2 linked regions of the Homo sapiens genome follow. The protein of the gene in region 2 interacts with the protein of the main gene of each other region in a biochemical or structural test. Each region holds a gene or a part of one and is shown on either strand. Other genes may lie near its edges. The genes, in order: MLNR and GHRL.

The links.
Region 1: the proteins of GHRL (region 2) and MLNR form a complex in vitro, tested with the Homo sapiens proteins (one study listed by BioGRID).

What each region holds. Positions count from the first base shown.
Region 1 is NC_000013.11:49,215,421-49,223,033, forward strand, and holds MLNR (motilin receptor), read left to right. Parts: upstream 1-4,917; coding exon 4,918-5,818; intron 5,819-6,619; coding exon 6,620-6,957; downstream 6,958-7,613. UniProt on the Homo sapiens protein: Receptor for motilin.
Region 2 is NC_000003.12:10,284,910-10,289,947, forward strand, and holds the end of GHRL (appetite-regulating hormone isoform 1 preproprotein), read right to left. Parts: intron 4,970-5,038; coding exon 4,853-4,969; intron 3,198-4,852; exon of another isoform or gene 3,036-3,197; intron 2,573-3,035; exon of another isoform or gene 2,379-2,572; intron 1,904-2,378; coding exon 1,795-1,903; intron 986-1,794; coding exon 966-985; 3' UTR 757-965; downstream 1-756.

The sequences.
Region 1 (7,613 bases), on a different chromosome or scaffold from region 2:
CCAATTGTAAAAGGTTGGTTCAAAACATTATGAAATGGCCAGGCTCCGTGGCTCACATCTGTATTCCCAGCACTTTGGGAGGCAGAGGAGGGTGGATCACTTGAGCCCAGGAGTTCAAGAGCAGCCTGGGCAATCTAGGGAGACCCCCATCTCTACAAACTTCATGCCTTGCTCTTATGTGGGGAAAAGAGTGTAAAGCCTGTGGAGTGTTTACAAGTTTACATAAGTAAACTATTGTACAAGTTACGGATGTATTTTTTTTTTTTTTTTTTTTTGAGACGGAGTCTCGCTCTGTCGCCCAGGCTGGAGTGCAGTGGCGGGATCTCGGCTCACTGCAAGCTCCGCCTCCCGGGTTCACGCCATTCTCCTGCCTCAGCCTCCCAAGTAGCTGGGACTACAGGCGCCCGCCACTACGCCTGGCTAATTTTTTGTATTTTTAGTAGAGACGGGGTTTCACCGTTTTAGCCGGGATGGTCTCGATCTCCTGACCTCGTGATCCGCCCGCCTCGGCCTCCCAAAGTGCTGGGATTACAGGCGTGAGCCACCGCGCCCGGCCGTTACGGAGGTATTTTAATGCTCCTCACAACTTTCCAGATTCTTCAATTTGCCCATAAAATCTGGTTTCTGAGAAAGACACTGGAAGACACTTTCCTAGCAGAATCCAGATCATAACCTAGCATTCTCTGCAGCTGGTGGTGCTATGGTCTGTATAGCAAGAGGCCACCCAGCACAGTAGTTATGCCCATGGACTCTGGAAGTGGACAGCACCACCCTTACTGGCTGTCCCAGTGACCTGGGGTCACTTCTCTGTGCTTTGCTCTTCTCATCTCTAACATAGAGATACTAAAAGAACCTGCTGCCTTGGACTGCTGTGGAGGATTAAATGCATTCAGATATGAAAGTACTTGGAACAGTGCCTTGCACACAGCAAGCATTAGCTTTATATTCATCCAGACCATCCCTTTATATTCATCAAAAGCCAACAAGTGAGGCCTCCAGCCCGGGGCCAAGAGCCTATTGATGACACCAACCTCTTGCCTCTGGGGACGCAGGCCGTAGCTGGGCCAAACCTAGACCCACCCTTGCCCCACATGAGTTACAGGTGGAGAGGTACTCAAAGAGTAAAGAAGAGAGACGCCCATGCTCCCGGTCTACTGAGAACTTCCTCTTCCTCTCGCTAGATTAACTATGAAGTCAGGAAGCTGGTGAATGTCTACAGAAACACAAAGTAGAAAACAGATCTGGTCCCATTCCTTCCTAAAACATTGAATGCCAACCCATCATAAGAGCTCAGATATGTCCTAAGGGCCAAGTTATGTTTGAACCTCAGCATAGCAATGTTATCAAAAAAGCCCGCTGGGTCTCCACCTCTCCATATCAGTATTCTGTCTTAAGCTGAAGTATCAGTGACTACTTACTGAGCACCCACTACAATCAGAGCACTGTTTTAACGGCTAGGAATTGTAAAGAAAACAATGGTACCTGGTTCTACAGAAGCTCATTCATTCTCCAAGTTAACAAATATTTATTAAATTCTCACTTTGTGCCAGGCACTAAGGAAACAGCAGTGAACACAGCAGATTAAAGCCCTGCCTTCTGGTGCACATAATGTTGGGAGATAGAGATAGATAATAAACAAATAGCTAGGTAAATTAAATAGTATGTCAGTTGATAATAAGCAATATGGAGAAAATACCATAGAGAGGGAGTGCCTGAATGGAGGTGAGTAATTCACAACAGCCAGGATGCTGACTGCAGACTCAGTGAGCCTGCCTCAGCGCCACCATGGTGGGTGGGGAAGGGAATAAGGGAGGCTTCAGCAGAGGCTGGGGTAGTCCATCAGGCCAAGGAGCAAATGGGAAAAACCAAAGAGACTCAGGGATTCGCAGCCCATGAGAGCCATGGGGAAGATGTCAAGTGCTCCTGATAGCATCACCTGAGTCCAAGAAAGAAGCTACCTCTTCACTAGCCACAGGCCCATGCGCCCAAGGCTAGCAGAGCCACTGGTGACCAGGCAGGAAGGGAACATGGAACTGGAGTCTAGCAAATGCCAGCCCCTGACACCCCAGGAGCCGGCGTGAAGCTTCATAAGGACCTCTCCCTCTAGCTTTAAGCCACTGACCCCTCTCCCCGTACACCTGGGCCACCTTGAGGAAAGGCATGATGTCTGAGAGAAGGGAACACTGCCCAGAGGGGCTGCTTAACTGATCCGCCTGGATCATGCCTTACCTAGGCTAGAGCATTCATTTCTCTTGTTGAGAGCACAGGGGAAAATCAAATCAACTATAAATGAAGAAATTACATTTTCTCTGCCTAGGGGGAGGAGACAGGGAGGAAGAAAAAGTGGAAACTGTGAGTACAGAAACTATTTTGAGGAGTTTTGCATGAAAATGATCCAGGAGAGAAAAACTGATGACAAGAGAGAGAGAAAGAGAATTGACGCAGTGATGTCTGGAGGAGGAGAAAGGAGCACTTAAGGGGCAGAGCTGACTTCAGCTGCAAGTACCACCAACTGTCCCAGGGGAGCACGAGCAGAGGTGGGGGTGTGGTAGTTATCTTCAGAGAAACAGGGTGCAAGGAAACCTCCCAAAGGAAGGGGTGGTGGGTGTTGGGTCTAAGGAGAGAGGAGGGGGTATAAACCAGCAGCCTGGTGGTGGGAGAGTGAATGAGGTCAGGTGAGAGTTGGGAAGGCCGGGGGAACGAAGCACCCCGCTAGAGGTTGTGCTTTCAAGTGAAACAACGCCATGTGAGAGCAGGCAAGGAGTAGGCAGGGAATTCGGCTTCACCAGGGTTGTGGTGCTCTTGGTGGATGGACGAGGCTGACAATGGAGAAAAGAGCAAGGGAGTCGAGGGCGTCTGTGTGGGAGTGATGGCGACTGCCCGTGGAATTTACGTTGGGTAAAGGAAGAAAGTGAAGACCTGGGGCAGGCAAGGGACCGGGAAAAGGAAGGAGGAGCCAGCGATGGAGGTCGCAGTGGGTTGAAGGATTACCGGAACTGAGGTGCTAGGGGAAGAGAGCTAAAAAGAGAGCGGGCGGAGGTCAGAAAGAGGGCTGACTGAAGTGGAGGTGGAGGAAGGCTGGCAGGCAACCGTGAGGTGTAAGTTCCGTCGACAGGCGCGGCTGAGATCGGGTGGAGAGCAAGGTCATAGGTGGAAAGGAGGTCAACAAACTAGAGGCCAAGGCATTCCAAGACTCGGCATGGGTGTGAACGGCCGCAGATGCAGTGCTTCAAAGAGAGCGCAGGCACCTGTCCCTCAGGGACTACGGGTGACCACGGAGGAAAGCGCTAGGGAGGGCGGTTTTAGGACCGCTGGAAACAGCAGCGATGAGGGAGGCGACAGGTGTCCCTCCTCCAAGCTCACAGTCTGCATGTGAGAGAGAACTGCAGGAGAAGCTTGCCCTAGGCAAAGCCAGGTGTCAGGTCCAGAATCGAGACTCCAGAGAAGAGGTTGAGGATTTAAGCCACTGAGGGGGTGGAGCTGGGCAGTGAGTAGGACGTCAGGCTTGCAAGCTCTGGGATTAGGCCGACCAGAGCCCATATCCCAGTCCCGCCTCTTACTGCCTGCTTGATCTCAAGCAAGACCGCTTTGTTCATGGGCGAAAGGAGCGCCCCGGGCCATGAGGATTAAATGGAGAGCACAGGGCCAGATCCATCTAAATTCTCAGTAAGTGTTAGCTATTGTTATTAAGACCACACCGAACAGACTGAACATCCGTTTTAGCCCCTTTCCCCAATTTTCGTTCTTTCCGGTGTTGACAAATCCTCTAGTTTTTTAAGTTTATAAAACATGTTGTACATAAGAATGACATATCACATGTGAAAGTACTCTAGTGTCCACGTAAATATTTGTCTTGTTCTTTATAATAAGTAAACATGCTCACGGATCCTTGAAATTATCTGGTCACTGCCGGGCGCGGTGGCTCACGCCTGTAATCCCAGCACTTTGGGAGGTCGAGGCGGGTGGACCACCTGGGGTCAGGAGTTCGAGACCAGGCTGGCCAACATGGCGAAACCCTGACTACACAAAAAACACAAAATTTAGCCGGGGCTTGGGCGCTCCTGTGCTCCCAGCTACTCAGGAGGCTGAGGTGGGAGGACTGCTTGAGCCTGGGAGGTCGAGGCTGCAGTGAGCTGTGATCGCGCCACTTAAACTCCAGCCTGGACGACAGTGAGACCCTGTCTCAAGAAGAAAAAAAGAAAGAAAGAAAGAAAAAAAGAAAAAAAAGAAATTATTTGGTCAATTATATGGTCAGCTCCCTCCACCACTCGCGAATTTACAGAAGAGGAGAACTGGGCTGGGCGAGACCAGGACTAGCCCAAGATTACACAAGTTACTCGGTTGTAGAGCCAGGATTAGACAGGAGAGGCTCTAGATTCTGGTCTAGACTCCCCTCCTATTATTTAGCATTATGGCTTCCTGAGGATTACCATGAGCCCTCCTCCACCGTCAAGCGGCAGCTACCAGCCACCAGACCAGATCCCTTCGAAGGTGCCCGGAGTACCAGACTGACAAAAGCGCCCGTACAGTGCTCAGTCCTGTAACCAAAGCTGTCTAGGGTGCAGACATCGCTCACCGGACCGGGTAGGGCTCGTGCGCTAAGGGCGCCGGGTATTCCAGTTAGTGGAGAGGGAAGCGCCCTGGAACTGCATGGGCCCGGGAGAGGGCGCGGGAGCGGAGCAGGGCCGGGCCGGGGCGGGCCGCGGCCGTGGGCGGAGACTGCGCGCAGCTAGCTCGGGAGCGCCTCGGAGCCCACCCCGCAGAGCCGCTTCTCGCGCCCCGCAGCGCAGCGCAGCGCTCCGCCGTCTGACCTGCCGCGCCCGCAGCGTGCGGGCTGGGAAAGGAGGCGCTCACCGAGAGGGACCACGCGCCAGGCTCCCAGCCCGACCCGGGACGCGGCGGCCGCGCGGAGCACCCATGGGCAGCCCCTGGAACGGCAGCGACGGCCCCGAGGGGGCGCGGGAGCCGCCGTGGCCCGCGCTGCCGCCTTGCGACGAGCGCCGCTGCTCGCCCTTTCCCCTGGGGGCGCTGGTGCCGGTGACCGCTGTGTGCCTGTGCCTGTTCGTCGTCGGGGTGAGCGGCAACGTGGTGACCGTGATGCTGATCGGGCGCTACCGGGACATGCGGACCACCACCAACTTGTACCTGGGCAGCATGGCCGTGTCCGACCTACTCATCCTGCTCGGGCTGCCGTTCGACCTGTACCGCCTCTGGCGCTCGCGGCCCTGGGTGTTCGGGCCGCTGCTCTGCCGCCTGTCCCTCTACGTGGGCGAGGGCTGCACCTACGCCACGCTGCTGCACATGACCGCGCTCAGCGTCGAGCGCTACCTGGCCATCTGCCGCCCGCTCCGCGCCCGCGTCTTGGTCACCCGGCGCCGCGTCCGCGCGCTCATCGCTGTGCTCTGGGCCGTGGCGCTGCTCTCTGCCGGTCCCTTCTTGTTCCTGGTGGGCGTCGAGCAGGACCCCGGCATCTCCGTAGTCCCGGGCCTCAATGGCACCGCGCGGATCGCCTCCTCGCCTCTCGCCTCGTCGCCGCCTCTCTGGCTCTCGCGGGCGCCACCGCCGTCCCCGCCGTCGGGGCCCGAGACCGCGGAGGCCGCGGCGCTGTTCAGCCGCGAATGCCGGCCGAGCCCCGCGCAGCTGGGCGCGCTGCGTGTCATGCTGTGGGTCACCACCGCCTACTTCTTCCTGCCCTTTCTGTGCCTCAGCATCCTCTACGGGCTCATCGGGCGGGAGCTGTGGAGCAGCCGGCGGCCGCTGCGAGGCCCGGCCGCCTCGGGGCGGGAGAGAGGCCACCGGCAGACCGTCCGCGTCCTGCGTAAGTGGAGCCGCCGTGGTTCCAAAGACGCCTGCCTGCAGTCCGCCCCGCCGGGGACCGCGCAAACGCTGGGTCCCCTTCCCCTGCTCGCCCAGCTCTGGGCGCCGCTTCCAGCTCCCTTTCCTATTTCGATTCCAGCCTCCACCCGCCGGTACTTCCCATCCCCCGAGAAAACCATGTCCTGTCCCCCAGGAGCTCTGGGGGACCCCAGGGCGCTTTGAGGGTGGGATCCCCGGATCCGATTCAGTAACCAGCAGTGCTTTTCCAGAGCCTCTGAGACCAGAAAGGAGAGTTGGTAATTCTTAATCCAACCACCTGTTAGATGCCACAGATGAGGAGTCCTCACAGTGCTCTTGAGAAGACGAGGGAGATTTCATTAAGCTAAAATTTTTTATTTAATGTTAAGTGATGCTGAAGGCTAAAGTAAACCTTGCTCGTATCAAAAAGTAAAGATTGTGCAGACCTGTTGTAGAATTCTTTTCAACAGAGAACAGAAAACTTGTCTCCGAAGTGGGTTTGTGGAAGGAAGCCTGCCAAGGCGGCTTGTTCAGAGAAATTGCTCCTTCTGGTTTATGTCCAGCCTTGATAACACATATGGGAGCCTACTATGCAGTTTTAAAGCAAGTATCCATGCAGCCTGCAGCCTGGTCATTTTTTCTGGGGTGAGGATCTGCCTAGGTAGAAGTTTTCTCTAATTTATTTTGCTGTTACTTGTTATTGCAGATGGTTCCTTGTCGGGGTGGGGGGTTTATTTGCTTCCCAATGCTTTTGTTAATCCCGGTGCTGTGTCTTATGTTGCAGTGGTGGTGGTTCTGGCATTTATAATTTGCTGGTTGCCCTTCCACGTTGGCAGAATCATTTACATAAACACGGAAGATTCGCGGATGATGTACTTCTCTCAGTACTTTAACATCGTCGCTCTGCAACTTTTCTATCTGAGCGCATCTATCAACCCAATCCTCTACAACCTCATTTCAAAGAAGTACAGAGCGGCGGCCTTTAAACTGCTGCTCGCAAGGAAGTCCAGGCCGAGAGGCTTCCACAGAAGCAGGGACACTGCGGGGGAAGTTGCAGGGGACACTGGAGGAGACACGGTGGGCTACACCGAGACAAGCGCTAACGTGAAGACGATGGGATAACCAGCACGGCCAAGCCAGGCTCCTCTTGCAGTTCTAAGACTTTGGGGAAAACAGGTGTGTAGAGAAATAAAGACTGCAAATGAGGAACAGATCCTGTTAAGAAGAATGGAAAGAGGGTTGCAGTTGTGCCAGTTGGTTAAGAAATAGACCGCATGATTTATTTAACCAAGGTATGAAATGTAACTGCGCCAACCTTTCTAGTTTCCTTCCCACGTACCTCCTAAGGAAGGTCGATTTTACCATCATGAAATCCCACATCTCAAAGTGTGCTCTTGTGTGATGGTTTCATGAAGTCCTCATTCTCCTACTCTTCGGAAAGATGATTGTTCATTTTACAGTTAAATGATACACAAAGATGCTGCCCCAAAACTGCCACCTCTGAGATCATGAGTGTATTTTATGTTTTGGATGTAAATGTAACAGTACATCTACAAGGAACCAGGATAATGATAGTTTTGATCCAAGAAATGATTTAATACCTATGTATGGCTGCAAAAACTTTTAGAAGTAAAAGGAATTCTGGGTAGACTCCAGTGTTCAGGGGTCCCACCTCTCTCCAGATCACAGCAAATCATAAAGTTTAGGCAAAATAATAGCCTCTTTCAGAAGTATTAAGCAATTGTGTTGCAACCCACTTCTCCTTGACACTGCCCATG
Region 2 (5,038 bases):
AAGTCAGTCCACATGTTTAGGCTAAGGTGGGCATGACCGAGTGGCCTTCCCCCGGGAAGACCAGTGTCGTAACTGGAATTAAGTTGTGGAACATAAGAGTCAAGGCTCGTGTCTGCTGTGAACTGGAGTTGAGGGAATGTTTGGGGATCCCACCTGGTATCAGTAAGGGAACCATGGCGACGGCCAGCCTTGCCCATGTGAGGCATTTGCTTTGTCAGGCCTTCTCAGTAGTGGAGAAGGGAGGAAGGAGAATGCAGCTCTTTCAGTGCTGTCTAGCAGTGCCCAAGAGCCGTGATTGGGCACCTCACTTAACGTCTAACTTCAGATTCACTCTTGGGCATTCCTGTCTTCCTCTCCAATCTTGAATGGATGTTGGCTTCGATAATGTCATCCTGAAGTTTCTTTGTCCACACAGCCCTGGCTGGTTGTTAATAAGCTGTTAATGCAGCCTTGCACTCAGGAAGCCCTGATGTTTAAAGGAACTGTGTCTTTGTTCTTCCTCTCTTCCCTCTTTCTCTTAGTCCCACTTTATCTCTTCTTTCTCTTCCTCTCCCTCCTCCTTTTCCCCTCTCCCTCCTACTCTCCCCCTTTCTCTCCTCCTTCTCTAAGAAACCCAGTCTTAATTCCACACAATGCATGCACATGCAGTAGCTTCTCTGCTTGAGTGAGCTGGTGTGATTAGGTTTTCTAAACATGCACATTGGCCTTGCTACTTGTCCTTTTATTCCCTTCCCACAGACCATAAACCAAGAATTATTTTTATTTGTATTATTTTGATTTTTTTAAAGTAAAATATTAACTTTTCCTCTTTGAAATAAATTCCCATTTGGAACATCAGCATACAGTTTGAACATTTATTCGCCTCCTGAGCTTGTACAACAGTCGTGGGAGTTGCTGCAGAAGCAAGCGAAAAGCCAGATGAGCGCTTCTAAACTTAGAGAGAGGTGAGTAAGGCTTGTGGGCGATCACTTGTCGGCTGGGGCCTCTGGAAAGCAAGAGGTTGAGTAAGAATGCTGGGTGCACCGTCCTGCTAGTGCTTTTCTTCCACGGTGGTGAGATTGGAGGTGGGATGTAATGGTGGGGGTTGTGGGGAAGCACTGGCCTTGGAGTCAGAGGGCGGCACTCAAGTGTGGACTGTTGTGCCCTGGGCAAGTCACCTCAAAGCTCTGAGTCTTGGTTTCCTCGTTTGCACAGCGGGGTGAATGCTACCCCTGCTGTTCCCCAGGGGTGACGGGTCACCGCCTTGGTGAGGACAGTGCTTTGCAGATGTGCAGGTGTTTCTGCCACCTCAATCAGTTGGGCGGTTTCTTTTTTTTCTTTTACAAGGTGAGGGGATTCAAAGCAAACCCTTTGCTTAACTCAGGAAGCTCTAATATTTGAAGGAACTGCTTAACAGGCTGCAGAACCTGTTCTGAGTGCTATTTTGGCACCAATTCCTTTTTGTTTGTGGAGTAAAGTTACGCAGTGAAGACGGTGTAACACCAAATAATTGTAGACTCTCACAATAGGTAAAATAGCTCCATTTTACAGTTAAGGAAGCTGAGGTTCAACTGAGGCCCCAAAGCTAGTTAATGTACTAGTTCTTAGAACATTCTTTGAACACAAAGACTATGATGAACTCCCTTCTGAGCCACTCACAAATACTAGCCAACCACTATCCTGCAGATCTTTGGGAAAGGGAAATTAGAAGTTCTTTTGGAGAGGCAGAGGTTGGGGAAAACTCATCACCCACAGAGTGAACTCCCATGTGGGGCTGCAAGGAAACCGAGCAAACCCAGTCCAGGCAGGACTCACCTTTGGCCTCTTCCCAGAGGATGTCCTGAAGAAACTTCCCCAGGGCCTGGCTGTGCTGCTGGTACTGAACCCCTGACAGCTTGATTCCAACATCAAAGGGGGCGTTGAACTAGGAGGCAGGGCAGGGAGGACCCAGGAGATGTCAGAGGTCATGCCCATCCCCATCTCAAAGGGGGCTCTGGGCTCTCTGCCTCTCTTCAGGAGTGGAGAGGGAGAATGGCCTTTGGGCCCCAGCAGGGACTGCTGAGTGACACCTCAGCCAGGTTCTCTTCCTTTCTCAGGACCACAGCTCACCTTCCCACTCACCATCTTTCAGACACTTACCTTGCACTCTCATGCCTCTCAGCCTTAGCCTCTAATGGGATTGCTGATAAAAGCTGTGGTGCCCCCTAGTGTGAGATTTTTTTTCTCCCTTGCAGTTTTGAAGACAAAAGGTTGAGTCACCAATGGCAGCATTTCAGGCCCTGGCAGGGGGTCTGCCCAGCATTCTCAGCACTGGCCTGCTGGCCTTCTATTCCTTCCCTGCTCCCAGCTCTTTCTCCTTTCTCTCTTGTCTGTTTCTTCTCCTTTTTCTCCTTCCCTAGGTATTTTTTCTCTCATATGCATAGACCTTTCTTTGATGCCTGGAAAATCAAAAGGAAGTTGATGTTTTCCTAGAAAGAGGCTCTGAGCCAAGTCCTTTCTGTGCTTCCATTTCTTCCCCTCTACAGGGAGAGCGCCTCATCTCTTCCATTTTCCAGGTATTCCTGAGATGATTTATTGGAGCTCAAAGCTTTGGGTAAGTGGGAAGGAGCTCTGCTGCAGCCACATGGCAGACTTTCCTTGAGAGCAGAGATTGTCTCTGCCAGTGGCTACCTCGGTGCCTGGCCATATTGGGCACTGACTTATCTGAGTCAGGGAAGGATCTTAGTGCTGGGTCATTTGGTCCTCACAGTAGAAGCCCAAGGAGTTGGAGGCCAAGGACTAGAATGCAGGACTTTTAAACCCACTTGGCCCTGAAAACTGCTTTAGTCCTATTGCCCTTCCTCTGTGTGAGGCCAGGCGTCCTCAGTGCCTCCCTGTGGGGTAGGCGCTACCACTGTGCCCATTTTACAGGTGAGGACAGAGGCGCAGAGAAGCTATTAACCAATAGCTATGCGTTCCCTTTTCGAAATCTCCCTCCCCTTAACTCCACCATGAAGGTGGACCCAGTGGGGAATGACATGATTGAATTTTTTTTTTTTTTTTTTTTTTTTTTTAAGGAGAGTTGGGGCCTTCCATTCCCTCCAGTAAATACTTGTTTTTCTTCCACCGCTGAGGCAAATGCGGGGTGGCTGATCACCTGGCAGACATCTTAGGAAACAGGAGCACCGGTCTGGGAAACTGCTGGCCTGGCCTAACACCTGGCGCTGTGGTGCAGGCAAGTGAGTGGTGACACAGTGCTGGCTGGTGGGGGGCAGCTTCCCTCCTGGCCTCAGTGGCCCATCTGTTCAATGGGAGTGGGACTTGGTCTCCAAAGTCTTCTACTCTGAAACTTGATTTTGGGAGGGAAACGTTTGGGGGGAGGTAGAGGGGCCTGAGATGAGAGAGGTGGGTGGGACACTCGGTTGTGAGGGGTTTGGTAGTGGGGCGCTCCAGGTCTCTGCAGCCACTCCTCTTCTGGCAGCCCCAACACCCCCCAGGCGTTTGACTTCTGGTTCCAGCCAAGGCAGTGTGGGTCACATGCTCCAAGGCTAGCTTTCACAGAAACTGCAAAGTTCCCGCTGTACCAGCCCCACCTTGCGTCGTCAGCCACCAAGACCTCTTTCTCATCTGGGTACTGGGCAGCTCCTCTGGCTGGGATGACCATGTGTGGAGCTAGCCGTCTCACCAGCAAAATATCCTGGTTTTGGCCTAAGGGTATGCAGCTCTTTCAGATGAGAATCTAGTGGATCCCACCGTGTAGAGGAAAGGTCTGAACACCGCCAGGTGCTGGTGAGGATGAAAGCGAGCAGGGGCTGGGGGAGCTTCCGACGGCTTTATTCCTCGACTGGAGAAGAGTATGGTAAACAGGCAGGCAGAGGCCAAGGCGGGCACATTTCACTCCTCTGGAAGGAAGAGGCCTCCCCTGGGCCACTGTGCGCTGTCTCTGTCCATCAGACCAGTGAGGAGGAAGAGGGCTTGGGGACTGGAGTCAGCCCTGACCTTGTGTCGCGTCCCTTCCACACACCGCTGTGGTACCTTGGGCAAGTGAGTTCACCTCTGAACTGTTCCTTGGCTCTAAAGTGGGAGTAATGCCAGCCCTGCTTACCTCACAGGTTGTCGTAGGGAGGAGGTGGGGCAGTTAGAGGTGAAGTTGGTATCCTCGGGCACAGCGTCTAATAGCTGCCATTATTAAGTGCTACCTTGGGGGAATCCTGCCTTAGCTGCGAAATGGTGTCACCAACCAAATATTTAGAAGAAACCATTCCCTGAACCACAGCCACAGGAAGGTTGCATAGAAAACCCCGTAAAATCCTTTACTCCCTCCTCCTCTCCATCCTTGGGTTGTCTTAACTTTCTCCTTGCCCCACGCACGATTTGTCAGAGCACATCACCCACACCTGCCCCCTCCTTGCCTCCAGGCGAGGTGAGTGGGTGCCGGAGCCTGGGCTGGCGCCAGCCCTCCCATCCAGGGTGCTGTTCGGAAGCACTCCACCCCACAGTCCAGGCCCTGGAAGCCCCTGAGTAAAACATGGTTTTCTGCAGAGCAACATCTTCAGTCTGGGCCTGCCGTTTATTTCTGGGTGTCTTTGTCTCTGGGCACTGTATTTTCTGTCCCCTTTGAGTCGCCTGGAGGCTCTGGCACCCTCTCTCCTCTGCCCAGGCTCCTTCCGTCCCTATTCTGTTGTAGCAAAGTTACTTCTTCTAGATATTTTTCTCTTAATGGGTAAAGACCTCACAGAGCCCAGGGCAGAGCTCAACTCCTGTGGTACTGGTTTTATAGTTCTGGGGAGCTTGTAGTTGGGACCCTGTTCACTGCCACCTCTCCCTGCCCTCCCTCTCCCCTGACCCCACCCTCCTCGCTGCCACAGAAGCATAAAACTGCAGAGGTACCGACCCGGACTTCCAGTTCATCCTCTGCCCCTTCTGCTTGACCTCCATCTTCCGGGCGGAGCCAGCCTGCTAGAGCTCGGGGCTGCAGCTTGGCTGGTGGCTTCTTCGACTCCTTTCTCTGCTGGAAGGGGGAAACAGTCTGTTTAGGACTCTAAGCCCCCATGTCCTTCCAGAAACAGTGAGGTCAGAC